Homo sapiens: one gene and its partners. The protein of the gene in region 4 interacts with the protein of the main gene of each other region in a pairwise test. Each region holds a gene or a part of one and is shown on either strand. Other genes may lie near its edges.

The links.
Region 1: the proteins of CALM3 (region 4) and ARRB1 interact in binary tests that used the Homo sapiens proteins (3 or more experiments, as listed by UniProt).
Region 2: the proteins of CALM3 (region 4) and CEP290 interact in binary tests that used the Homo sapiens proteins (3 or more experiments, as listed by UniProt).
Region 3: the proteins of CALM3 (region 4) and KCNH1 interact in binary tests that used the Homo sapiens proteins (3 or more experiments, as listed by UniProt).

The regions. Positions count from the first base shown.
Region 1 is NC_000011.10:75,341,644-75,348,668, forward strand, and holds part of ARRB1 (beta-arrestin-1), read right to left. Parts: intron 1-7,025. UniProt on the Homo sapiens protein: Functions in regulating agonist-mediated G-protein coupled receptor (GPCR) signaling by mediating both receptor desensitization and resensitization processes.
Region 2 is NC_000012.12:88,048,503-88,055,100, forward strand, and holds the end of CEP290 (centrosomal protein of 290 kDa), read right to left. Parts: exon of another isoform or gene 5,999-6,598; intron 5,912-5,998; coding exon 5,838-5,911; intron 5,245-5,837; coding exon 5,150-5,244; intron 1,932-5,149; coding exon 1,852-1,931; intron 1,659-1,851; exon of another isoform or gene 913-1,658; coding exon 682-912; 3' UTR 514-681; downstream 1-513. UniProt on the Homo sapiens protein: Involved in early and late steps in cilia formation. Its association with CCP110 is required for inhibition of primary cilia formation by CCP110.
Region 3 is NC_000001.11:211,131,131-211,138,566, reverse strand, and holds the start of KCNH1 (voltage-gated delayed rectifier potassium channel KCNH1), read left to right. Parts: upstream 1-4,418; 5' UTR 4,419-4,621; coding exon 4,622-4,700; intron 4,701-5,192; exon of another isoform or gene 5,193-5,379; intron 5,380-5,540; exon of another isoform or gene 5,541-6,288; intron 6,289-7,436. UniProt on the Homo sapiens protein: Pore-forming (alpha) subunit of a voltage-gated delayed rectifier potassium channel that mediates outward-rectifying potassium currents which, on depolarization, reaches a steady-state level and do not inactivate.
Region 4 is NC_000019.10:46,597,230-46,604,352, reverse strand, and holds the start of CALM3 (calmodulin-3), read right to left. Parts: upstream 3,024-7,123; 5' UTR 2,919-3,023; coding exon 2,916-2,918; intron 2,285-2,915; exon of another isoform or gene 2,146-2,284; coding exon of another isoform or gene 2,143-2,145; intron 1,757-2,142; exon of another isoform or gene 1,714-1,756; intron 1-1,713. UniProt on the Homo sapiens protein: Calmodulin acts as part of a calcium signal transduction pathway by mediating the control of a large number of enzymes, ion channels, aquaporins and other proteins through calcium-binding. Calcium-binding is required for the activation of calmodulin.

The DNA of each region.
Region 1 (7,025 bases), on a different chromosome or scaffold from region 4:
CCCTCCTCCACACTCTCTGAGGGTGCTACTTGGGCAATTCCTACACAGATGGAAATGACACTGCCCAGCCCTGGGGAGGGAGCCCTCGGCCTTAAAGAGTCCCTCGCTGAGGACTAGTTTGGGAACCACAGGACAGTCCCAAAGACAGGACCAAGGCTCAAGGGCAGGACATGCTTGGGGAGCCAGGTGGGCAGACTGCTGCTCCCAACTGTCTTCCCTTCCCACCCAGTCTAGGCTGGCTCAGACTCCTACACTGTCTGCCACTTCCAGAAGGCAGGGCTGCCAGAGGCCAAGCTGTCCCGCCAGAATCACACTGCTGCTCACGCCCTCTCCCCTCCTAACGAGAGAAGGAAAGGGTCCTAGGGAGGAGCCTCTAGGCCAAAGCCTCTCCTACTTCCTGCTTGACACATAGAGAAACTGAGGCCCAATGAGGAAAAGCAGCTTGCCTATGGCAGCACAGGGACAGTGAAGAAGTGAGATCCCTGTCTCCCAGGCCAGAGCCCCTTCCCTCCATTCACCCCACTTGGGTGCTCTCCTCAGATGGCACCTTTGGGCATCTGCCCACTTCTCTCCCTCTTTCTCACCTTCCCTCTGCACTTCCTGCTTCCCTCTCCGAGCCCTGCTCTGCAGACCCATTTCTGAGCCTCCCCTGTTACATCTCCTCCCAGCCTCACCACCTCACCCCCCTTCCCTCTGCTCTGGGCCAAGGAGCAATGCTTGGGTGGTTTAATTAGCTGATTATGACCGCAGCCTGCTGGATGCAGTGCCCAGAATTCTGTCCCCAGTAATTAGGTGGGTTCTGAGTACTTGCCCAGTGGGGAGCCGATGGGGAGCTCTGTGCTCTGCCAGCCAAGGGAGGCTGTCCAGCTGAATAAAGAGCTCCTTGATCACCGGTGGGTCATCGGAAACCATGGTCCCCTCCTCAGGCCGGGTCAAACCACACTGGAGGGACTGCAGCCAGACCCAGATGTCCATCCTAAGGAGGGACTCCCTACTCTCCCATGCCACTGCCCACACCCGGGAAAGGCTCAGTACATGACTGAGGATGAGGATGAAGAATGGAGCGCGCCCTCCAGAGGCCGGGAGAGAATGGCTCCGTGGCCGGGGCACCTATTTAGGAAGTAGGATTGGACCAAGTAGACAGAGAGGCGCAGCAGGAACAAAGGCCCTGAGGCGGGAATGAGCCGCCAATCCCCTTCCCAGAGAGCTCTGGTTGTCAGAAAATACAGTCTTCAAGCAAGGTAAAGCTGAACATCCAGTGACCTCTGCCCTTTAGGTCACAAAGAATAATCTAATTCCTATGGCTCTGGGCTACTTTGAGATATTTTGAAATCAGCAATGATGTCCTATGGTCCTCACCAACCACACTGCCCACCCCCTAGAGTATCTCCTCCCAGCGAAATGCCTTGGCTGAACAAATATTTATGGAGCTCAGCGGCATGCCAGGTCTGCGCAGGTGCTGGGGACAAGCAGATCCAGGGTGCTCTTGAAAAGTTCTTGACCTCACAAGATGACATCATCACGAGTGTGCAAATAACCAGGACCTATGCAGGGAGGGAGGGATGAGTGCTGAGAGAGAGAGATTACAAGAAGGTCACAAAGCGCTGGGAATCCAGTGAGGGCTTCCCAGAGGAAGAGGTGTATGTGATCCAGGCCTTGAAGGATGGGACAGCTGTTGTATGTGGTCAAGTCAGCAATCAGGTACTGAAAGCCAGCAATAATACAGGCTTGTAATGAGGCCTTGGGAGGCTCAAAAAAATGAATCAAACAGGGTCCTTCCCTGGGGGAGCTCACAGCTGGGTTAGGGAGGCAGGGCCGGTGAGACGTCATATAAGCGATAAGAACCGCATAAAACTGACCTTGCACAGGGACTTTCTTTGCTTTATCTTACTTAATTTTAACTCAGTCCTCATGACAACCTACTACCCTATTTTACAGATAAGGGAGCCACAGCAGAGAAAGGGTTAAGTAATCAGGGAAGCCACCCAGCTGGTAAGTGTCAGAGCTGGGACTGGAAACCAGGAAATCTGGTTCTTCCAAGAGCCTAACCGCTATGCTAATCTGCTAATAATCCATGCTAATCAGATCACCGAAGGGCCTGCAGGTGCCCAGAGGAGGCCCCAGAGCAGCAGAGAAGGCTTCCTGGAGGAAGTGTTCCTGACCTGAGTATTTTTTTTTTTTTAAGACAGAGTCTTGCTCTGTCCCTCTGTCGCCCAGGCTGGAGTGCAGTGGCGTGATCTCGGCTCACTGCAAGCTCCGCCTCCCGGGTTCATGCTATTCTCCTGCCTCAGCCTCCGGAGTAGCTGGGACTACAGGCGCCCGCCACCACGCCCAGCTAATTTTTCATATTTTTAGTAGAGACAAGGTTTCACCGTGTTAGCCAGGATGGTCTCGAACTCCTGACCTCAAGTGATCCACCCGCCTCGGCCTCCCAAAGTGCTGTGATTACAGGCATGAGCCACTGCCCTGGACCTGCTACAGATGCTTTATGTCCCTGGAGGTGAACATGACTGCTGTTCAAGGACCTGATACCATGGGAGACAGCACTACCCTTTCGAGCAGTAGCCAATTCCTTCCTGGCCGCCAGCACCCAACACCCATCCCCACCCAGGACACACTCCCTGGTGGTCTCAGTCCCACTGGCCTGTAGCAGAGGCCTGAGACTTTGGCCGCCCAGAAGAAAGGTCACTCCTGGACCTGCTAGCAAAAGGGCCTCTCACCTGATTTGACTTCACAGGGAAACTAGGACCCAGAGAGGGTGCATGTCATGCCCAAGGTCACACAGCAATAAGTAAGCAGTAGAGCATGCCTCTGGGACCATTCTGAGATGGTGAGCCACAGCAGTCTACTCCCCACCCCTCCCCTGGCCCTATGCCAAAACCTGTCCATGCCCTTTGCACAAGGCAGGGGCAAGGGTGAAGAGGGAACAAACCTAGCAGAGGTTTGCTCACCCTCTGTCCAACCCTCTGTTCTCCAACCCCCTACTAGGACTCAAACCACCCCTAGGATGGACGCATCCTGCACACGGGAAGGCAGAAGAGAAGGTGCCCAGGAACCATCTGAGATGATACCTATTCTAATCCCAGGGCTCATGTGGGAGACAAGGCCCCAACTTCAGGAGCCCCCAGTGTGATGGGGGAAGAAAGGAAGAAAGAGTTCAGTCCAGTTCGACAAGCCTCCCTGCAAGGCTGAGGGAAGGGTGTGGCCGCACAAGGACCAAGTGAGTTGGTTGTGGGCTACAGGCCCAGGGCCAGCATGAAAGGGACCTCCTGCCTCATCCAGGCCCATACACGGGCTGTTGAACCACTGAATGGTTCAGACATTGCATCCTGCCTCCCGCTGACTCGACATCAGTCACAGTGCTTCCAGTGCTGAAGGCCCTTTAGACCAGCAGATCCCTCTCCAGGTGCAGGGAGGCAGAAGCTCAACTGTGGCCTCAGCCAGGTGCCGCCCAGCCCCAGGCAGAGGAAAAGCTGTTCAGTTCCTGCGGTGACCTTAGTCACACACAATTCTGGGGACCTGTCTTGTCCAACTCCCAGGGGCTTCATCTGGCACCAGGTCTCCTGGGAAGGAACAAGCAGTTCTTCTGAAGTGGGGCTAAAGATGGGGCCAGTCCCAGGAAGGAGGAGGCGCGTCTCCCGAGAGATGACCCTGCCAGGGCCCCTTAGGGAAGGCGGGAGGGGGCTGGGACAACAGAGTCCTTTGTTACCCTCTCAAAAGCAGCCACCCTGTCCTGCCAACCCCCTCTGTTCTCCAACCCCCTACTAGGACTCAAGCCACCCCTGGGACAGGAACCATCCTGTCCACATAGGAGGGAAGAACACAGGGTGCCCAGGGACCATCTGAGACGATACCTGTTCTAATCCCAGGGCTCACATGGGAGACAAGGCCCCAACCTCAGGAGCCCCCGGTGTGATGGAGGAGACATCCTTCCTTCAGAAGCCTCCAGTCTGAGGAGGGAGACATGGCTCCCACCTGCAAAAGCCAATCAGATGAGGGAGCCCCAGGCCTCCCGCTCAGGCGCCCCATGCTAATAGGAGTGGTATAACCCTGTCCCTCAGGACTTCCCAGTCTGATGGAGGAGTCAGGACCCCACCCCTCTCTTTTGAGAACTTGCCTAATGTGGGAAATATCGCTTTCAGTCTTACGATTCACTAATGGGAAAGGCCTAATTTCAGCACTTAGGGAGTCCCTGGACCGATAGCAGAGGCAAGAAGGGAAAAAAATTTTCAGTCCAGTTCAGCAAACCTCTGCCAGGCATCTCCTGGGGAAGCAGACCCAGCGTGGGTAAGGAAGCATCAACTGAGAAACAGAAATAGCCCTGAACCACAAGCTGCTTACCAAATGGGGAGCTCACTCAGCCTGAGGTATGAATGAATAAGAAAGTACCTTGAAACCACCCCCTCCAGCATCCAAGACCTGCTGGCCAAGGCTGTCCCTTCCTCCACAGCCTCACCCCTCACACTCCCACACCTGCAGCCAGTATCTGCACCTTGGCCTAGGCTCTTTCTTCTGTCTAGAACACCTTACTCCTGCCTAAGTCTTTCTCATACTCCAGCACCCAGCTCCGGGGTCACCTCTTCAAAGAAGCCTTCCTCCAAGTCCCCCACCTGAGTCAGAAGCCCCTCCTTTCTGGAGCCAGCACATTACATGTCTTCCCCAGGACCAGCTCACACTTCACAACCCCTCAGCCTGAGCCTGAAAGGAGAGCACAGGGCAGTGGTCTTCTGCCTCTGGACATAAGGCAGAGGGAGGGGGTGGATGAGATAAAACCCCTAGGTTCCCATACCCAGTCTTCACTGCCTGCCGCCATACTGCTTGCTCCCAGCCCAGGGCCTCACGCCCTTCCTCCAAGAGGCTCAAGCCTTGCTCCAGGCATGTAGAAAAGCAGGGTCCCCTCCCACTCCTCTCTGCCCGCTGTAGCCTAGTTTTGCCCTCACCACTCCACCAAAACCCATGCCACCAGCTAATGCCTTCTGGCTGAATCTGAGGGGTCTCGCTCCAGCTCATCCTCTGTGGGTCTGTCCCTGCTTCTTTGGCTCCAAGAATATGGCCTTCCGTCAGTTTCCTCCCTCTTCTCTCCATACCCAGGCACTGGTGCTCTCCAAGGCCCTGGCTGTCCCTAATCATCCTCTCTTCATACTCTATACCTCCTCCCTATGCGATGTCATTCATCCACATTTCCAAAGCCCTGCCTCGCACCTTGATTCTTACCCCAGGATCCAGACCCTTCTATGCAGAAGCCCCACTACGTCCAGCCTATAACAGACTGCCCTGGCTCCCTCACCAAGCTGCTCCCAGCCATGCAGGCCTCAGCCAGATGGTAGGCGCGGGCACTCTGGCAGTAGCGGAGCATGGCTGTGTAGAGGCCAGGACCTCACTTGGGGTGTGCTGACTCCCAGCCTGCTGTTCTACTGCCACCAACCCAAAGTGTCAGAAGCCCTGGAAGTGGCAAGCCCACAACTCAGGACCTCTGGACCCATGCCAACGGGAGGCGTCAGCCTCAGGCAAGGAGGCCCAAACTTGGAAGGAAGAGAGCAGTGGAGAAGTCTGAAGCCCAGAGGCCGGCCTGGAATCAGGGATCAGAGACAGTGGGCCAGACTTGATGCTACCACTCCCAGCGGCCCCATGAGCAGCCCTGGCCAAAGCCACAGGACTTCCCCATGTTCCAGCCAAGATGGGTCACACAGGGCTTAACCACCAAGAGAAATGACAGCCAAAGTTCACAGAGAGCTGGTGATTACATGTCCTCATCACCCTCCTTTCTCTGAAAAAAGAGGAGTTCATCTGCAGGAAAGGAAATTCCATTCCCTACCACTGCCTCTCAGGAAGTCCCTCCTGTTGTCTAAATCTGATCCTTCATGTTGTCTGTTGAGTAAGTGGAAACGGCAAGGCCCAGAAAGGACGCACAACTTGAGGCTGGGAGCTGCTGGGGAGGCCAACTGTGAGCCAGACAAGGCCCCCTCTCTTGGGCAAAAGCGTCGAGTAGCAGAGAGGGCTTTGTGGGTCAATAGGCCTGGGTTCTTATGCTTGCTGGCTGAATGGCAGTGAACAAATACTTAATCTCTTCTAGTCTGTTTCCTCATCTGCAAAATGGGGACAACAATGACTACACTACTAGATTACAGTTGAATTCATTGAGATTATGCGTGTAATTCTAACACACACCAGATACCTGGCAAAGGTCCAATCGACCAGCAAGGTTGATGGACTCCACCTCCTATTCACATTCATATTTCTCAACTCTATCCTCTCTGCAGCCTAAGTTCAGAGCTCACAGCCTTAGTTCTCAGGTTTCTCCCCAGCCTCCTCACTGGTCTTCCTGCTTCTAGGCCTGCTCTTCCCATCCACCCTACTTGGCGCTGCCAAAGACATCTCTCTGAAATGAAAACATCTGCTTCCAGCCCTCTGCTGCCTCACACTCTTCTCTGAATCACCATCCACTTCAGGAGAAAATGCTCTCTCCTTAGCCTGACATTCCCAGACTGCTGGTGACCGGTCTGTGTTTACCTCTTAAGGCTCACTATCATCCCCAGCCCAGGCCCCAGGCTGCACGCCTTGCTTCCTGCCTCCAAGCCACTGCACATTCTGCACCCTTGGCCAGAAATATCATTCCCAATCCCGCCCCCTTGGCCTATTCATCCTTCCAGATGAAGCTCAGTAGTTCCAACGCCACCTCCTTTCCAGGAGAGCTTCCTGTACCATGCTCCCTGCCTGGGCCTGGGTTGGGGACTTCTCCTTAAGCCTCCCACAACACATGTCATCCTGCGTTATGACCACCTGCTCTGCTCTAAATCCCTGGAGGACAGAGTAGACTCCTTCCTTGCTGAATCCCCAGGCCCTGGGCACTCAGAAGGCACTCATCAACATTTGTTGAATGAATATATGATTGTTCCCAGAGCACCTTGCAGCAACCATCATACTCCTGCCCTGTGATTAGTCCTGTCCAGGTATTTTTTTTTTTTATTTTTTCAGACAGGGTCTCACTCTCTCATCCAGGCTGGAGTGCAGTGGCATGATCATGG
Region 2 (6,598 bases), on a different chromosome or scaffold from region 4:
CATTATGAAACATCAATATGTTTTCTACCATTTGTGAAGAAATGAATTTTCCAGTTTCAAGTACCTATTCAAAATTTTATTAAAAACCAGCAAATTAATTTTAATCTCTAGCCATAAAAACATAAGTAATAGTAAGCTCCTAAGCTTGGACAAAGGCTGGATTCTCTTCACTATAACTGAGTGGTAATTTAAAGACAACAATTTAATGTCACTAATTTTCAAAATTAAATAGTTTAAGCTCAATTTAATTTTGCTAGATATTTAACAAAACATACGGCTCAACCTCATAACCTATATGTGTGTATGTCTACATCTGTGTATATATCATAGGATTTGAGAATCTTAACACATGTATAAATAAGTATATATAAACTCCAATTTTAAATCTTAAAATTGCTGAATTTACCCTCATATTCTTTAAAAAACTTAAAGCATTATGAATGTAGAGAAATTCACCAGAGCTCACTGCCTATTTGATGGCTGTAACAAGTCTTCAAGTATATACTTTTATAATAAGTTGAAAATTTCATATAATTTTATTTATTAAGAATTCCAATCTAAGTATAAAGGTACAAGGTAGTGAGAAGGAAATACTACAGTTCGGAGAACTGCTTATTTCCAAGTATATTTAACTTATAAAGTTAATAAATAGTTAAATGAAACAAAGTTTATAGGTGACCTTTAGTAAATGGGGAAATTAACAGGACTTTCTTCTTCATCTTCAAACTCTTCAGAAGCAGCAACAGGGCTAGTTAATTCAACTCCCAATTGTTCTGAAAGTTTTTTTACCTTCTCTTCTAAGAGAATATTCTTCTTCACTTCTTCCTTGTAATTATACTTAAGATCTTCAATTTCTTCAAAAAATGAAGGATCAAAATTTTCCAGTTCTTTTTTCAGCTTCTTTATTTCCTCCTAATGGAAACATTATCTTTAAAAGTTGCATATAGGAAATATACATATTTTACGTTTGAACAAGGAGATTTAATTGTAAATATGAAAGCCAAAGTATTCCTGAATGGTCAAATACAGCAATAAAGGCAGAAGAATTAAGATTTTTCTTTGTTCCATTGTACAGTGTAAATAACTAAGTTGTTAACTGTCAAGTCCAGTTATGTATTCTGTAAGTTGTGTTCTAGTCTTTGACTAAAATTTATCATCTCTTATAATGGGACTTAATCTTTCTCTAAAAGCATATAAGAGCTTGTCAATAGAGCAATCAATCAAAAAGATTTTGTGATTCATAACATTGAAGTTAGTCTGGTTAAGAGTTTTGGTTTAGACTTCATTTATATTTTCCTTACTAATATCTAATATTTAATGAATAATGATCAATTTTTTATAAAGTTATTAATATGATCAGGGAAACCTTTGGGACTTCTGACAGGCATCTGGTGAAGAGACAATTCAAGCCTTAGTGACTATTTAGAATAGCCAGTGATCACTAGCTAATTCTCATATCCATGCCTTTTTGTCCTGTTTACAGTCTTAAAAGAGGTAAAACAGCAAATATTTTTTTAAGGGAACTATAACCTTAGGATTCCTGAAAAGAATTTCAAAAAAAAAATAAAGACACTGTTGCCAATGTGACCCAAAACTTAAGAACATACTAATGGCATATATTTGTTACAATTAAAAAATAAATTTACTACTTAATCCTATGTTGAGTCTGAATTTTTTGTTAACTCTAATATGTTAGGAATAGTCAGATGAACATAATTAACTTTGCAATATAAAGGTCAAATATAAGATGTTATTACTGAATTTTTTAGGATACGTAGTTAAAGATGGTAATGAAAATAGTTTTCAACAGCTGTTTTCACAAAACGATACTAAAATATAATTAAATATTACCTTCAAATGCTGCTTTTCTAGATCTGACATTTTGAGCTGTGTCTCTAGATCTTTTATTTTTTCCTTTAGTTGATCAGCATCTGTTGAAAAAGTCATACAAATTAGACTCAGCTTTTTCCCACTACGAATGAGTTCAAGGTAATGGATTTGTTCTAGAGAACAGAGATACATTTTATGAAACCTAGAACCTGGAAAACACTGGATGTTATGGCTGAAATACTTCAGGATGTAAACACTTAATGCTGCCTCCCTCCATCAAGTATTATAATTTCATAGCAGGCAGAAAGAGGTATGTGCTAGGTATTAGAAGTGTAGGCCAAGTTATTTTTTCTTCACATGATAGAAATTTTACATGGAAAAAATCCTAAAGCCAGGGAAACTTGTTAGGTACTAAAAGTACAACAGAAGAAAAGCAGACTGTTGGGTAAGGGACTATAACCATAAGCTAGCCAAATGCTCCCGCTATCCAACACAACACTGGCTATTCCATGTAGGTTATTACACATTTACTGTGCAATTACTATGTGCAAAACGTGTCATGCAGGCTGTGTAATACAAAGATAAGTAAGACATAGCCCTGATACTTTGGTAGGAAAACAAAAGTCTCCAAATATAGCACAAAAGTTCTAATTTATTGGATTCACCCTCCAAGTTAACACCTCTAACTTTATCAGCAGGCAAATAGGATTTTTGCTTTAATGCTATCTTTGCTAGATATCTCTTTTCTTTATATTATACTACATTTAATAAGTCATATTTTACAGCCATTGAAAAATAATAAAATACTAAAAGTTTGCGAAAGTAAGGGGCAGCAAACATTTTCATGGCTGGGACAAGTATCTTTTTTTTTTTTTTTTTTTTTGAGACAGTCTCACTCTGTCGCCCAGGCTAGAGTGCAGTGGTGCAATCTTGGCTCACTGCAACAACCACTGCCTCCCAGGTTAAAGCGATTCTCCTGCCTTAGCCTCCCTTGTAGCTGGGATAACAGGCAAGTGCCACCATGCCTGGCTAATTTTTATATTTTTAGTAGAGACAGGGTTTCACCATGTTGGCCAGAGTGGTCTCGAACTCCTGACCTCATGTGATCCACCCACTTCAGCCTCCCAAAGTGCTGGGATTACAGGTGTGGTGTGCTACTGTACTGGGCTTGGTATAAATATCTTAAAAGTTATCTTGCCATTTATATAGACAGTGATTTAGAATTTCCAAAACAGTTCTGGTTTGATCTTAAGCCTTAATCTTTGAAAAATGACAGGTAATCTGTCTACTTAGGAAATAAGGAATTTTGAGGGTTCAGAAATTCCCTTAAGAAACTGAGGAATGGAAAGATTAGAGAACTATCTATGGCCATATGACCCTTAATGCACATGCACCTGATCTCTGATCTCAGAAGCTAAGCACTGTTGGGCCTGGTTAGTATATGGATGGAAGGAAAATTATAAAATTTTCCTCACATCAACAGCATTAATACTGTGTCTAGTGTACATACCAAGCTGGCTGCTATGAGACATATTTTGAGAGTATTTAATATGTACTTTTAGTTACCAAGACGTAGCATAGCATAGCGGGTTAAGGACTAGGAATGCCAAGGAGCTGTGGAGTTTCATACATTTAGATTTTAATCCTGCCTCTATTTCCTAGCTGGCTTAGGGAATGGTTACTTAACCACTTTGAATTTGTTTATCACATAAAATGGAGACAGTAATACCTATCATATATGGTTGTAAATATAGAATGCTTGTAAGGCAATTAGCATAGTGTCTAGTACAACTCACACATGATGGCTTTTATTACAAATTAGTAATAGGACTACATAGCATACTGAAAAAGCTACAAGAGATAGTCAAAGATAGTTCAGATATAAATTGGTATAATCCTTTGGAGAGAATGGCATCTCTATCATCCTATCACAATGGCATAATTAGGTCAATAGATTAATCATATTTTATAGAAGCAGAAACTTGGAAGCAAACTAAATATCCATCAAAACATAAATGGTTCGATGTGCTTATACATGCAATAATACACTATGGAATTATTAAATGGATGAGATAATTTATGAACAGACCTCAAAAGATGTCCATGATAAACTGTTAAAGGCAAATATGCTAGAAATGTGTATAGTATTAGTTCAATTTTATGTTACTTGCCAAGAAAATATATATACGTAAATGCAAACAAAGTATTCTCTATCCATAGTAGTTTTGGTCTATAAAGTTAGCCCAATTAGTGAATATCAAACCACTGCTGCTACGGGAAATATGTACAGACATGCATATATATACATACACGCATATATATACATACACGCATATATATACATACACCTACATATCTCACACAGATGATAATCTTAAATCCTAAAGATAACTCATCCTGGTAAATTCTATTTATTTACATAAGAAAACAAGATTCAGAAGTGTTACATGACTCTCCTAAGGCTAGAGCAGTAACAAGCCTCAGAATTGGGATTCAAATCCCTTCCACCAGGCCCCAGAGCCACAGCTTCTTGCACTATGCTGTGCTGCCCTCTACTGTCTCCATCCTCTGCTCATTTCTCTATGAAAACTGAAATGAGGATACTGAGCACTGCCTTGTTGGACTTCTGCTGGGGACATGTAGGTTGGATTATTCAAACTTTCCAAGGCTCTGTGGATGTTTGCAAATGTGCTGCGAGTGTTGATTTGGGATTACATACACACTTTAGTGAGGAGGTGATTTAGAAAATACAGAATCCACAAATAATGAGGATATGTACATTGTACATATGAACATACAAACACATGTATGCATATGTGTGATATATATGTATACAAAATATGTGTGTATGTATATGCAGGAATGAGGAATGATTAGTAATCACTTTTGAATGGGAATGGAAGGGAGCAGAAAGATTTTCTTTTTACTTTGTAAACGGAAAAAAATATAGGCAGTATTTACTTATTTGCAGTTTTTAAAAATGTTCAGAGGACTTGAAAGAGCCTATACTTAGAAACTGGAAGCAACAGATTTAGTATTCATTGCTTAGCACTGTATTGTGATTAAATCTGTAACACCCAGATGGAGAACAAAGAGAAGAACACTTGGGTACTTGCTACTCTATAGTATAAACAACACAAAGAGAAAAATGGGAATATTTTTATATTAATAGCACAGAGAGACAAAAGACCCAAAGCTTATCAGGAATTCGATTTTACAGGGAGACAATGATCAGAAATCTGAGCCAAAAAAAAAAAAAAAAGGCAAACCCAAATTCAAAAACTTGGGGGTAGCTAACATGTTTTTTAAAATACATTACCAGGTATGGTGCTTTCAGCTCCACTTTGGTCCTTGTTAGCTTCTATCTGATGGATTAATTCTGCTTTCTCTTTATCCAGCTGATGATTAGCTAATCTAGAACACAATGATAATGTGTTAAAAAAATAAAGCAGATATTGCTTCATAAAATATATGGGCATTTCTTATGAACTAGTGATGTACAGTAATCAGAACAAGCTAGCCTTTATCGAAGTAAACATTTACTCTCAATGCTACAATGTCACCATTCTCAAACAAAAAGCCTGGAATACAAAAGCCTTCACGTTTTTCTTAATATCTGACCTGATGGCATTTGCAAGTGTGGTTTCGTTATAAGAGGAGCTTAATGAAAGCAGGCTACAGAGACCCCTGAAAGTAAAAAAATTACTTGTTCTCTTTCATTAGTATTTTCCTCTGGGAAGCTAAGGTTTAACTCATTCTATGCTCTTAGAAAAGTTTAAACTAAATTACAAACTGGAAACTTAGAGTTGGGTTTATCCTTTTTTTCTAGTGTGTATTATGAAAAAGAGTGATTAGCATTAGAGGGAAGAAATAAGGACCTAATAAGCCTGTTAGGCAGTAAAGTCGAAAAATGCTTGTCTCTAGTTGTAGCAATTCGGAGTATATAAAAACTAATAATTTTTTTTTTAAAGAAAAAAACAAAGTAGTCATATGAATACATGATGTACCTAAGAACTTGAAGCTCCCGTTTAAGGCCTTGCTCTGTCTCAGCACCTTCAGGAACATGTTTAAGAATCTTAATCTTTGAGGACAATGAAAAGTTAGAAGATAAGGTTTGCCATGGAAATATGAGGATTTATAAAGATACACATTTTTAACAAAGCGTAATATTAAAATATGGTTTTCAAAAGCACGCATAGGCAAATTTCTATGTTCTATTCACCATTCATTCAACAAGTATTGAGTAACTACTGCATAACTGGCATTGTCCTAGGCACAGAGGCTAACAGCAGTGAACAAAATGGCAATGTTCCATCTTGCATGGTCCTTGTTTAGTGGGGAAGCACAAAGAATGTGTGTTTAATATGATATGATGTAATATAGTGCCAGATGGTAGGAAGAGCTATCAAGAAAAAATAATCCAGGGTAAGAGGATAAAGAGTGATGGCAAGTAGTATAGGGTTAGGGTTAGGGTTAGGGAAGGTCTCTCTAAGGAGCCTCTATTTCAGCAGAGACATGAAGTCTGGGAGCAAGCTATGAGAATATTTGGGTGAACAGTATTCTAAACAAAGGAAACAAGTATAAGGACTTGACGCTTAAACGAGTTTGGATTGTTTAAAGTACTGAAAGAAGGTTACTGTGGTTAAAACATTGTGAATGAAATGAAGGGAAAAGTAGTAGAAGATGAGATTGGGAAGAAAACTGGGTGCCAGACCTCATATGTTGTTTTGGGATATGAAAAGAACTTTTAAGTTTTATTTTAGGGTGA
Region 3 (7,436 bases), on a different chromosome or scaffold from region 4:
GCCTGGGAAACATAGGGAGACCCTGTCTCTACAAGAAAAAAAAAAAATTAGCTAGGTATGGTGGCCTGCCCCTATAGCTACTTAGGAGGCTGAGGTGGGAGGATCACTTGAGATCAGGAAGTTGAGCCTGCAGTGAGCCATGATTTTGCTACTGCAGTCCAGCCTAGGCAACAGATCAAGACCCTGTCTCAAAAAAAAAAAAAAAAAATCTTAAGCGAAGAGGTCAAGTTGAACTATAGATTATTTAAAAAGAAAGGAAGATTTAGAGGGCACATTGGAGACAGGAAAGCAGTTGAAAGAAATGACGAAGAACATACACATTCATTAAATATTTGTTGAATTTCTTGAGGGCAGGTGCCAATCATAACCATCTTTTAATCCTTAGAACCTATCCCTGTCTGCTATATACTAGACACGATGCAAATGTTTGTCATAATAAAATGAGACTGTTGTAAATGACTTTTAATTATTTCCCACTGAGGGAAGGGTGTGATGAAAGATCCTTTTCTCTTTTGTTTAGAGGAAATGAGAAAGAAGAATAGCTTAGGGCACTTGGAAGGATATAATTCAATTCTACAAACATTTCACACTATCTATTGGGTTAACCATGGGTGAGTGTAGACCCACATCAGTGCATTCTTTTCCCCAGTCAATTAGATTCAGGGACTAGTATTTCCTTTGAAGCAGATTCTGTCCATTCTCCCAACACTAGGGAAATACATCTATAGCAGGGAATCTTTTTTTTTTTCAATGGATATAGTCTGCCCAACATTCTTCCTATAAGATTATTCAAATAGAAGTTTTGTTAACAGAAATCACATATAATAAGTCAGTCAGTCATTGGGCTATAGAAGCTGAAATTTCTCATGCTGCAAATTCCTCCACTTTTAGATATTTAGATATTTCACTCCTGGTGGCTGAGTAGTGAAGTCGCCTCTATGTTCAATTTCTCCTCCGCTTAAGTTGCTAATGACGATGCATCCATGGCCTGCCCCTTCCAGCTCGCAGACCTAGGACTCACAGGCAACTTTCCTATGTTAGAGAGGTTCCTGGCTTTCTAAAATCTGTCACCCACACCATGTGGTCTTAATGGAAGGAAAAATGAAGTTCCTGTCTTTATATGATAACATTTGCCCCTTCTGATGTGTGGCATTGTCATCCTCTTCATTTGATAGACTTGTTGTTGTTGTTGGGAGAGATTTTTCTGTCATCTCCTGGACTCTTTTCCCAGCCAATCTGCAGATCACCATCTCCATATTCTCCCTATAGCATTATGCCTTCATCACTATCTATTACTTTTGTGAACTCACTAATTACAGTGTAGCTTAATAGCATTTATAAGAACAAAAATTGTTATAGTGTGTCTTTGTTTCAAGGAGCTCACAATCTACGGTGTGATACAGACATAAACACATCTTATAGCTAAGGGGTAAACAAAATGCTGAGGGATACAGGAGGAAAGAAGCCTAGAAATAGTAGACTCACATTTTAGAATTTATTTCAGACTCTGTATCTGAACTCTGTATCCCTGCAGAAAATGGGCTACATTTTCTGCATGGAAGGATAGAGGCAGTTGAATTGGAACTCTGGTCACAGTTATTTAAAGTTGTCCCTTTAAATGAAGGAGTGGCTTTGTCTGTTATGCAAAAATATAAGCGTTCTCAATTGGTTTGCCATGGTACATTGGTATATTGTGAATCCTTTAGAAATCTGTTACCAAGTTTTGACAAATCTGTAAGATTAAAGTTTACTCTAACTGAGATTCCCATATTACAGAGGTAGATCTCAGACAGAACTTTAAGTTGAGCAGGTGCTGGAACTGAATGTCAAGGAGGGAACAAAAGGTGGCAAGTAAAAGGTAAGAAGCACAGTATCCCGTCAACTAGCACCAAGAAAGAGGGAGTGTTTACTGGAATATTGAGAATGTGGCTGTGGACAGGGCAGAACATGATTTTATTCCTGCAGTCAGATGTGTTGTGAGTGAACCAAGGGAATGGGGGAAAAACTGGATGTACCTCCACAGACACCATGAGACACTCACATTGTGATGAAAGACTGCTGACTTTTTAGCAATTTAATTCTTAAATATTTATTTTATTTAAAAATCCATGAACACCTCCAGCTTTTTTTTTTTTTTTTATGGCAAAACAGTTCATTGTAGCTGTTCACGTAGTAATTATCTTCCTCTTGCATCCCCAGGTAATGACTGTGATCTTGACCTAAAAGCCACCTTAGTTAGTTTGAATAAGGAAGACCTTGAAAGGAAAGGTAACTGACCAGAAACACTCTTAAGAAGCACACAATGAAGAAATGATCATTTCTAAGCAAGTACTTAAAGTGCCATAACACAGTATAACAGTGCTTTTATAAGCATCCAGTCTTATTTAAGCAAAAAGACGTAAAATAATGTGATCGTGTTATGGCACACAATCTGGAGGTTTAAAACTTTAAAAAAAAGAACCACTTTGTAGTAGCACTATTTTGTTTTAGGTCTTTTAATTTCTTCAAGTGTGCCACCAAAAATTGTAGTATTCAAAAAGGTGCCAATACACACACACATACACACACACACAGAGTCCATGTTGAGATCCATTTCAGTAGTACATTTAAAATGGAAGACATCTTATTTCTTTTTCTCATCAGGTTGCCCACCAAGGCTTTAACATCTCTGATCTCAAACTAATATCATCTGTTTCCTTTTTTATCTAAGCCACAGAACATGAGAGCTCATTAAAACCTTAGAAATTTTATTAACTCTCTATGATAGTTTTCCCCTCCACATTATTTTCTTTATCTTCCTTTCACAAGCAGGATTATGAGGTTTCTTGATGGGTTTTTAATATTGTCATGAAAAATCTTCCCTTGGCATGTTTGTGCGATAACACAACTTTAAAAACCTTATTTAAATGAACTTATTCAAATGAAGTGGATAGGCACCAAACTGGCTCAGCTCAGCACCAAATACATTTCAGAATCAAGTTCTCTTCAACCAGTGTTATCTCATTTGTAATAGAACAAAGAACCACTAGACGGAGCTAGGGTTTAAGAAATCACTGTTCTAGACTAGGTAACAGGCGATGGGTAGAAGGCTATCTTAAGGAAAAAGTGTATCATTACTTGCATTTCAAATCCTATGACAGTCTTATCCAACTCTCTGCTAACAGCAATCTGTTTACTTTGTCTCTACACAAGACGAGATAAAGGGTGATATTCGTAATGGCCCAATTTATTTAGTCACTCCAATAATGACGTCTGACCTTGGCACAGCACTTTACAATTTAAGGTGCTGTCCCCATACATAATTCTTGCTTGATCTTCACAGCAACTCTGAGAGATTTCTGGGCAAGAATTAGTTCTTCTGTTTTTGAAATTAATTAACTGAGACAGGATGTCTTTGCAATACATTAGGATATGTCAGGATGGCTAACCCAGACAATTAATTTTCAGGGTTAGTTTTTTTTTCTCTTACATTTTTGTGTTGACTGTTGACTCAGTCTGAAACTAGTAAACTCTCCATTCATTTCTCCTGTGGGACATAGGCTTAGTCTCCCACCGCACCGACTGGGGATACATAGTAAAAAGGCAGGTACAGACTATGTGTGGGTCGAAATCCCCCAAAATAAGTGAACAAACGACCGTTGTCTTAGCCCCTGTCCAGAAACCTTGGGTGTATGTGGTTCTTCCGTATACCAGGGGTCAGCTGTAAAAACTAACTGTATCCTCTGCACTACAGACTACCCTTCAAGCCAAAGCCACGGTTGCTTAATTAATGCTGCCCCTCTCCTGAGCATTCGCCCTTAGAGACAAGTCCACCCCTTTGATGTTTGTCAGGCAGTTTGATACTGATCATACCAAACATCAGGAGCCTGCATTTGTGTCTACGGTAAAAACAACCCAAGACAACTCTTCTGAAGCTGAATCTGCCAGTCACTCTAAATCTGCACTATTGCAATACGACTTCATTAATTACTGCTCAAACACTGGCCTAGAATCAAGGTGGGGCAACTTTCACTAGTCAGGCTAACCTTACAGGAAGGCAAGAAGGTGTTCCCAGAGCCTCACAGGTCCCGGGGGCCCCGGCCTGAAACAGAGCAAAGGAAGAGAGTTACATCAGCACGCTCCCCTAAGACTTGTTGGGGGTGAATCCGCCCTGAAAGCTGCTCACAATGCCCTCCTCTCCACCCAGCCCATGGCACATCCTGAACACATTTCCCGGCTGAACCCAGAGGGTGGCGCTGCCGTCCCAGCCTTGGTCCACGGCCGCCCGCCACTTCCCTGCCTCTGCGGGAGCCCCCCAGCTTGGTCTCCCGCAGGCCGGCGGTGGGGCACGAGCCCGGTAGGGGGCGCCGCCGGCCCAGGCGCCGCTGCTCCCTCCGCCCACCCGGAGGCGGCTGCCGCTAGCCGAGGCCGGCGCGAGTGCACTGCGAGGCGGGCCGCAGGGAGGGAGGCGCGAAGAGGGCGCGAGGGTAGCAGCCAGAGGGAGCCGCCAGCCCTGCCTGCGGATCCCCGCCGGGCGCATGGGGCGCTTCGAGCCGGGACTGCGTGCGGGCCCCGAGGCCAGTTTCCTGCTGTCGTAAGAAGCCGCGCCAGGACGCCCGCCGGACCCCGAGCTGCTGGGAGGATGACCATGGCTGGGGGCAGGAGGGGACTAGTGGCCCCTCAAAACACGTTTCTGGAGAATATTGTTCGGCGGTCCAATGGTAAGAGGTGCATTCGGATTTCGATTACCCGGGCGTTTTATCCGTGCCTTTATTGCAGAACCTCTCGCCGCTCGGAGCCAGCAGATGCAGCAGAACCCGCGAGCTCTGCTAAGGAGCCGCGGCGCGGGCACCCAGGGCAGCCTCCCCGAGGCAGAGAAAGGTGGGCAGGGCGGGGCGGGGTCTGATGGGTCCCCATCCTAACAGGAGAGCTCTTCTGGGGACGCCTTTTGGGCCTTTCTAGCGCCCTCTCGGTCTTATCTCCAAGGATGCGTGACAGCTGCTGAGCAAAGTACTGGGAAAAGTGATGGAAAGCTGGCTGCAGCCGGAGCGGCAGCGCGCGCCCCATCGGCACTGCCCACCCTTCCGCGAAGGCTCTGGGGCTCCCGGGCTGCTCCCAGAGGCGCCGCCTCTCCCCAGGGAGAGCCAGCAGTAGAGACGGGCAACTCCAGGTCCCCGCTGCCTCAGAATGGGAGGATCCGGCTGCCTCCACCTTCCATCCCTGCAACTGAAAAGTCCGAGGTGTCGGGACGTGCTCTCGGCGGCCTGATTCCACCCCTTCACCCACCCACCACTTTCTAGGTGAAGTTAAGGCTCACCTTCGAAGTGAGGGGCAGATGGTTTTCCTGGCGTCAGGTGGGAAGTGGAGGGCACAGGTGCAGAGCGAACTAAATGGTCACAGGTACAAACCTGTTATATTTCCCCTCTTCCAAACCCACAACGGTTTTATGCCACCCTTAAGTGTTGCTCACCTATAAATTCCCAATCTCACCAAACCTATAAATAGATCCATTACCCAATAAACTGACAATCAGCACTCATCTGTTTCCTTGTGGCATTAAGATCGACGGTAGCATGAAGCCTTGAGAGGCGAGAGTCCTAGGAGCGGGGATGGAAAGGAAGAATTCCAAACGCCTTTCGGACTTAACAGAGGAGAGACCCCAACTAAGCACTTGCAGAGCGACTAGGAGTCCTGGCAGTTGGAAGGCGCAGCGCACGAGTTCATCAAATGGCTATATTGAAAGATAGCCAAGCATAAGATGCTCTTTGCAGACTCCTAGAGCCCCCACCCCACCCCTTCCAGAAACAGATGACATTCTTCTACCAGGGAGACATGAGGAGCTAACTTAGGAAATGGGTTTTAATAATGTGTAAATATCACGATTTCAGAGTCTAAGGAGCTTCTGTGTAAAATGATGAGCTTCTGTTTGGATTTAGTTAGGGATTCAGGGGAAGGGCATGAAAAGTGACTTATGCTACTAATAAACACTCTTTAATTAAACAGTGATTTAAGTTTATCTTATAATGAAACACATCAACTAGCATAGCAAATAATCACGTATTATTTAAGTACTTTCTTAGAAATGATCATTTCTTTATTGTGTGCCTCTTAAGAGTGTTTCTGGTCAGTCACCTTTCCTTTCAAGGTCTTCCTTATTCAAACTAAGGTGGCTTTTAGGTCAAGGTCACAGTCATTACCTGGGGATGCAAGGGGATGATAATTGCTATGTGAACAGCCACAATGAACTGTTTTGCCATAAAAAAGCTGGAGTTGTTCATTTATTTTTAAATAAAATAAGAGTTACTGTGCTATTATTGCTATTTTTATTGGACTATTAAGGGGTATGGAGACAATCTTGCAAATTTGGTTATCCCATTGTCAGTGACACCAACTTTCTCATAAATATCAATGACAATTCTATTTTTCAGTAAAGAGGCAGTGCCCTGTAAGTTAGAGGGGAAACCCAGTACCTAATGTATACTGTGTATGTTTTTGAGTGGAGGGAGCAGGAAGAGAAACTTACATGTAAAAGTCACAAGATGCCTTGGGTTTTAAGGGAACCTTAAGAATCTTGGAGCTGTGAAGGCAGAATACTGTCTATTTTAGTTGATCTTATTAGAGCCACTTTCCCTCTGTAATCATAGAATGTGAATAGAATAAGTCACTGGGAATATTTTTAGGATGGGCATTGTCATTTCAACACCAGTTTCAGCAGGTTGATTTCAATTAACCAATCAAATGAATAGCATCAAAAAAAATGAAGCATCTTGGGAGAGTTGGATGAATTTTTAAAATTATTATTTCAGAATAAATGGTTCTCATCTTGAAATATGGGACTCAATGTTTAAAAGGTGATCCCTTTTATAATATTTCCTGAACACAAATGGAAGAAAAAATGTGAACTCCTAGAAATATCACAATATCTGCATGCATTATATTATTTTACTGTGGTGGAAAAAGTCTATTTAAAGATATTGATTGTCTCATTCTAAAATCCATGAGCCCTTTTTTGGACATTACGGTATTAAAATAGCATTTTACCTTTGAATAGCAATATTTTATGATCATTTTATTAGATATTTTCTCCCAGTGGTCCTGTGCAGTATTAATGTTCCTCTTTTACAGATCAGAAAACTGAGTCCTAGGAATATTAAGTGGCTTATTCAAAGTGGCAGAGCAAACAATGCCTGAGGCTGGTATTCCTTAGAGGACATCTATCATATATCCTTCTCTCAGCATTATAATTTCTCCAGCTTTTATGACTTAGTCTGTGGAACTATTTTTATCATCCTTTAAAAACTTCTCATATGATAATGAATAATAGTACTGACTTCATTTTGGGTTATTTGAATATCTGATGCCCGGAATATCATAGAGCTGTGGGAAGAGACAGACCTTAAATATTATCTAGTCTGCCTCTCCTTCCCCATCATTGTATAAATAAGGAAATTGATGCA
Region 4 (7,123 bases):
AAAAAAGACAGGGTGGTTGGGCTTCTAAATGCCAACCTGGTAGCCCCAGGCCCATGAGCCTCTTGATCCACCTGCCCCCCACCTCCCACCATGGACAAAAAAGCCTGGAGCCATCCCTTAGGTCCTGACACCTGAGGAAGAGGCTTAGGGAAAGTGAGAAGGGAGGATGGGCTTCTGGTTACCGAGACCAGGCAATGCCCAGGGAGGGTCAGGGAAAGAACAGAGAGGAGGGCAGCAGTGTGGGGAGGTGGCTGCCATCCCATCTGCTTTTCATTCTTTCCCCTGGCCTAGAATGGAAAAAGCGAGCCAGGTCAGGGCCTTCCCAGCCCACTGTTCCGCCCTGCAAGAAGTCCAGCTCCCCGGACCTTTGGGCAGCACTGTAAGGGGCTGGGGGTGGGGGCGAGGAGGCTGTGACAGGCTGCAGACTGCCCCGAGCGGCTCTGAAGGCCACCGTTTGCCAGTCTCCACCAAAAGACTGGAAGATGCAGATGAGGCACTGCCATGTTCAGTTCTGTCACAGGGTTGCTGCAAATAGGCGTGGCTCTGCATGGAGGGCCTGTCAGATGCTCTCCCTCCCATGTTGGAGACCCACTTCCCTGCTTGGTCAAGGAAAGGTACAGATCTCAAGCAAGGTTGCCGCCCAGAAAACCGACCGCCTAAGAAGATATCATTGATCCTTGCTCAAGGTTTCTTCCCTTTCTAGACCTGAAGACTAAACTTTCAACAAAAACTGTTTCCAAAATAACTCAGCTGGTCTCCTGCTTCCTTATCCCTCATCTTAGGCTCCAGCAAGGGGCTGGACAAGAAAAAAAACCATGAGGTGGGGGAGGGAAGAGGGTGTGATTTCTCTGCCTTGCCCCAGCCCCCAGCCAATGCCAGAGAGCAGTGTTAGATGAGATCAGAAACCAAGGCCAGGGCCCCTCACCCGGGCCAAGGAGGAGCCACAGAGCTCAGGCCAAAGTCCAAGGCCAGTTACCAGTGACTTGTCCCACCTCTACCTTGCTGATTACAAACAGAAAGAGAAACTAGTTGTGGCCAAAGCTTGGGTCCTATTCTGGAGGTAGGGGGCCTGCTAGTGCTTCAGGGCCCCTTTTAGCCAGGTTCTGCTGGGGGAAAATGGGGTAGCGGCAAGAGGAGCCATCAGGTCTGTGTCAGCAAGTATGAGATCTGATACACAGCAGCGGCTGCCTGTTCTCCCCAGCCTTGCCAGGGAGGATGGCTGCACACGGTTCCCAGGCTCAGCCTGGTGGGGCTGTGGGTGTTGTGGGTGGCAGGGAGTAGGAAAGAACTAGTCTGCTGGTTTTCTCTCAAAGCCCTGTGAATTAACAGACACGCTCAGCGAGGGCCCTGAATGGAACAAGTGGCCCTCAGGCCGATCAAGGGGTCTCCCCAGAGGCACTCTCTGATCAAGCTCTGCAGCCCCCACCCCGAGGGCACGGGAATAGGCATCTGATTGTCACTGACGCCACACTGTACTGCACTGTCATTTGGCACAAGTGACGAGGTGCAGCATGGTGCGTGGGGCTGGGGATCATGAGAAAACCGGCGCTCCTGCTGGGAAAAGGCAGTGCTCTTGGCCTGAAAAGGGCAGCGACAGAGTGAGGCTTCTAGGCTTGAAAAAGCTGGCTCATTCGAGGCACCCCAAACTTTGATCTCCCATCCCCATTTCATGAGGCTTCAGTGCGCAATAGGGGCCCGAACAGCTCCGCCCACCTGCTCCCACTGCCCCGGTGTCTTCCACCCAGCCGCGTTCTTCCTGAGGAAGGAGGACGGTAGAAAAGCTTCCTCCGGGCCCTGCAGCCCACTCCCCATCCACACTGAGCCGTCTTTGTCCTGGCCTGTCCCTGGAGACTGGCAGGGTGCTACCCACATCCACCCCCAAACCTAGGCCCCCCTGACTGCCATTCATTTTCTCCTTCCACCTCACCTCCCAACCACCCAAGCCCAAGTCCTCCCCCACCCCTCACCTTGGAAATCCATCTTCTCTTGGACCCAAACACAACACTCCCACCCCGTTAAAAAAATTCTGTCTTTCTAGAGCAACAGTCTTAACCCACTAGTAACCTCGGAACCTTTTCTAGCTACTTCCAAATTAACCCCAAGGGTCCCTGTCCCCCGACTACTGGCGAGCCCCACTCTCACCATCCCTTTTCACCACCTCCACGACCCTGATCCTTCTCCGTCCCGGAAGCCTTCAAGAGTATCTTCTAATCTCCGCTGCCACCCACCCCAGGCTCTTCCTCCCATAAGCTTGCACCTCACCCTCCTCCTCCTCTGCAGTGCTGGGCTCTGGAGACCACCCTCCCCCACCCTCCCCCACCCTCGGGAGTCTCATCTGTAGAAGTGACCGCCCATCCTTGACCCTCTCCTCTGCTCCACAGGAGCCCAGGGGTCGCCCCTCCCCGCCCGGGCCCAGCTACCCTCCACCACCCCATCCAGGAGCAGCCCAGCCTCCCTTCGTCCCCCGTTCCCCGCATCCTCTCAGGACCAAACGCCTTCATCAGGGCCCGAATAGCTCCCCTCCCCAGCCCATCTTTCTTATTTCGTCCCCTGGGGTCCAAACACCTCCATCCTGAAACCCAACGCCCCATCCTGGGTCCAAAATCCTTTTGAGGGGTCCCACTGAGGGTCCCGATCCTCCATCCGGGGTTCAAATGTCCCCTTTAGGGGCTCAGATACCCATTTGTGGACTTAAACATCCCATTTGGTGCTAAAGTCGCTTCTGGAAACCTCTGGTGATCCAGACGTCCCGCTCTGGGTTCAACAGCCCCCGACAACGCGGGTAGAAAAGGGTCCCGAGGCTCTCGCCGGGCCCGGACGCCCCCCACTCTGGGCTCTGTCGCCCCCTCAGGGGTCCTGCCCCGTTAAGCCCGCCTCAGAGCCCGCAGCCTCGGCGACCCCCCAGCCTCACTCACCATGGCGAGGCCCGGGGTGTCCGGAGCACGGGGATCAAGGTTCCTCCGGCGGCGGCAGCAGCTGCAGCAGTTCCAGCTCCGCCGCGCGTCCGCGCCTCCACACTCACTGCCCGCAGCGCGCGCCGCCGCCGCCGCCGCCTCCCGCCCCAACGGTCCCTCAACGGCCGCCGCGCGCGCCCCGCCTCGCTCGGCCCCGCCCCACCCGGCCCGCGCGCCGCCGCACTGCGGCTCCCACGGATCCCTCCGCGCCCCGCTCCACACCTACGGGCCCGCGAATCTCTCGTCCCCACCCTGCACAGGAATTGGGTTTGCCGCCGGGCGCGCGCGCGCTCGCTCCCGTCGCCGGACTACTTTCCCTCGCCGCGCGCCCCGCCTCCCGGGCCCACTTCACTTTCTTCGGCGGAGGGGCACAGCTCGGCGGTGCGTGACGCGTCCCTCTGTGAGCCGCGTCACTATTGGGCCTGGCCCATGGCGGAAATGAGAGCTTGGCGCCCATTGGTCCGACCTTCCCTGCAATGCGTCAAACTGGGGCGAGCCACTGCAAGGTGGTGGTGGGTAAGTCTGAACTCTGTGGCCGCGTGGGGCTTTGAGGAGTAACGAGGCGAAGGGGGAAACGGCGTCGCCGTTAGAGAAGCAAATACGTCGTTTCTGTGGCCAGGAGGTGGTAAAAAGGCTGGCGACAAATGCAGAAGGGCTTTCTCGGCTCTCCCCTTTAACCGACGGACGATGGTTCAATCCAAAATGCTAGGGTTTAGAAGCTCCGCCCCTAACTGGGCCTTTGGAGGTGGCGGGGTCTCCAAGGTGCCACCTAACGCTCAGAGGTTCCGCCCTCCGTGGTCTTGTCTCTGCGTCCTAAGACGCACTCAGCCGGTGGGCGGGACCCCTGGGCCCGCTTCATTCTTGATCCGCTCAGGGTCTGTGAAATTAGGACCATCCCAGGACAGCCTGTGGGAACGGGGTATTCATTCAGTCATTCGTGCTATAAGCATCAATTAGGCGCCTGCTGTATGCAGGGACCTGAGCTTGGCTGGGCTGGGGAGACCATACTCCCCAACCAGCCTCTCCAGACAGACGACCTCTTTCCTTATTCCAGTGTTCCAGCCATAGGAGGAAAAAGAACTGAAACTTTGTTTATAGGAGCTCAGAAAATGATCACCCCTGCCCCCTCCCCCGTTTAGGATAGGAGCTGACAGTCTCCTGCGTGTCCCCTCCCCACCATGTTGATGGTTAAGAGATGGGCAAACGAGTCAGGCTGGACCAATCATTATGCTCCACCTGGAACAGAATGGAGACTGAACCAATGAGAGTCCTTCCCTGGGGTTTGGATCTGCAGCCTGGGCACAAGAAGCCTTTTCCTTTTGGGTGGGTCCTTCCCATAGATTCTGACTATGGTCATTTTCCCACTCTGCCCCCTATCTTGAGGAACAAAGTGTCTAGAGAAGAAGAGAAAAATAAAACTGACACAGTGGAGAGGTAAAGAAGATGGCCGGGCGCGGTGGCTCATGCCTTTAATCCTAACACTTGTTACTCAGTCTCAAATCTCATGTTAAAATGTGATCACCAATGTTGGAGGTGGGGCCTGGTGGGAGGTGTTTGGGTCATAGGGGTGGATCCCTCATGAATGACTTGGTGCTGTCCTCACGGTAACAAGTGAGTTCTTATTCTGTTAGTTCACACAAGATCTGTATTTTTTTTGAGACGGAGTCTTGCTCTGTCACATAGGCTAGAGTGCAGTGGCATGATCTTGGCTCACTACAACCTCCGCCTCCCAGGTTTAAGCGATTCTCCTGCCTCAGCCTCCCAAGTAGTTGGGACTACAGGCACCCACCACTACACTTGGCTAATTTTTGTATTTTTAGTAAAGACAGGGTTTCACCATGTTGGCCAGGCTGGTCTCAAACTCTTGAGCTCAAGTGATCCGCCTGCCTTGGCCTCCCAAAGTGCTGTAATCACAAGAATACAACCATCAGGAGTGCCTCAAGGGAGAAATATCCTCTGAGAATAGCCACAGACAAAGTGGGGAGGTGGGACTACCATCCCCAGCCCTGGAAACTCTCTCTACTCTATAACTTGGCCAAAGGAGATGCCAAATCAGAGTGGCTGTTCGTTAGCACCATGCTGTGGGAGGTTTCTTCCATAGCTCCCCTGGGAATGAACCCCTAGCCAGCTTTCCTATGCTACTGGGATATCCCCTTTGGGACCTCCCCCATTCGGGATGGGAGACGCTCTGATCTTTAATAGAGCCAAGGCAAACCTGGTTTTAAGGTGCCACTGAGTGCTAAAAAGGAGGCAGCAACCTAGCAGAAAAAAAGAAACCAACAGGTCAATTACGAAGAATCTGTAAGCAAATGGAGCCAGTAAAAGCCAAAACAAGCCAGACGGAGAAGGCTGGAATAAGTGACTAATCCTTCAGTGCAAAGGCATAGATGTACATTAACAACAAACCAAAGCAAACAGGGAACCATGAGCTCCCCAAATGGACCAAGTAAGGGACCAGTGACTAAACCTAACAAGACAGTAATATGTGAGCTTTCTAAGAATTCAAAATGGCATTTTTAAGGAAACTCAGTGAATTCCAAGACGACATAGAAAAGCAACGCAGAAATTTATCAGTGAAATTTAACAAAGAGATTGAAATAATAATTTAAAAAAAACCCAAACAAATCTTAGAACTGAGAAATACATTTGCTGAACTGAAAAGTTCATTAGAGGTTCTCAACAGCAGAGTGGGTCAAGCAGAGGAAACAATCAGTGAACTTGGAGACGGGCTGTTTGTAAATACATACAGAAGAAAAAAGAAAAAAGAATGAAAGGAATGGAAATCACCTACGAAATATAGAAGACAAAATCTAAGAATTATTGGTGTTCAAGAGGGAGCTGAGGAGGAGCAAGGGGATAGAAAGGATATTCAAAGAAACAATGGAAGACATTCAAAAATTGCAAATATCCAGGTACAGAAAGGCCAGAGAACACCAAATAGATTTGATTACCCCAAGGCATATAATAATCAAACTCTCAAAGGTCAAGAACAAAGAGAGGATCCTAGAAACAGTAAGAGAAAAGAAGGAAATAACACTTAAAAGAGCTCTAATTTACCTGGCCACAGACTTCTCAATCAAAACCATGAAGGCCATACAAGAATACTGTATCAAGCAAAGCTATTATTCAAATATGAAGAAGAGATAAAGTTTTTCCCAAATAAAAGCAGAGAGAATTCACCACTACCAGATCTGTATTATAAGAAATGCTCTCTTGAAGAAAGACAGTTCCAGAGAGTTCCTCAATCCGGAAAAAAAAAAAACCATGCAAAAAGAAAAAAAATTTTTTTTGAGACACGATCTTGCTCTATCACCCAGGATGGAGTGCAGTGGCCCAATCATAGCTTACTGCAGCCTCAAACTGCCAGGCTCCAGTGATCCTCCCACCTCAGCCTCCTGAGTAGCTGGGACTACAGGTGCACACCACCATGCCTGGCTAATTTTTGTATTTTCTTTCTGGTAGAGATGGGGTTTTGCCATGTTGCCCAGGCTGGTCTCGAATTCCTGAGCTCAAGCAGTCTTCCCCCATTGGCCTCCTAAAGTGTTGGGATTACAGGTGTGAGCCATCATTCCTGGCCAAAGAAAATATTTGAAGGTATAAAACCCATTGGTAAAATTAGGTGCACAGAGAAACCCAGGATACTCCAATACTGTAATTGTGGTATGCAATTCATTCTTAACTCTACCATAAAGCCTCAAAGACAAATCTATCAAAAACAATAATATTGAGCTGGGTGTAGTCTCAGCTACTTGGGAGGCTGAGGCAGGAGGATCACTTGAACCTAGGAGTTTGAGGCCAGTCTGAGCAACACAGTAAGACCCCATAATTAAAACAATAATAGCTATAGCAGCTTGTTAAAAGACAAGCAAAATAAAAATATGTAAATTGAGGAAACAAAAAGTCAAAATGTGGGAGGGAAGGAGATAAAGTGTGGAGTTTTTATTCATTGTTTCTATTTTTTTCTTTGTGATCTAAGATGTTATCGCTTTAAAATAACTTGTTATAAGATTTTTTTTAGAAGCCTCAAGGTAACCACAATGCAAAAACCTATAATAGATTCAATAAAAATAAAAAGTAGCAAGTTAAAACGTACTACCAGAGAAAATCACTTAACCACAAAGGAAGACAGTAAGAAAGGAAAAAAGGGGGCCAGGCACGGTGGCCCACAC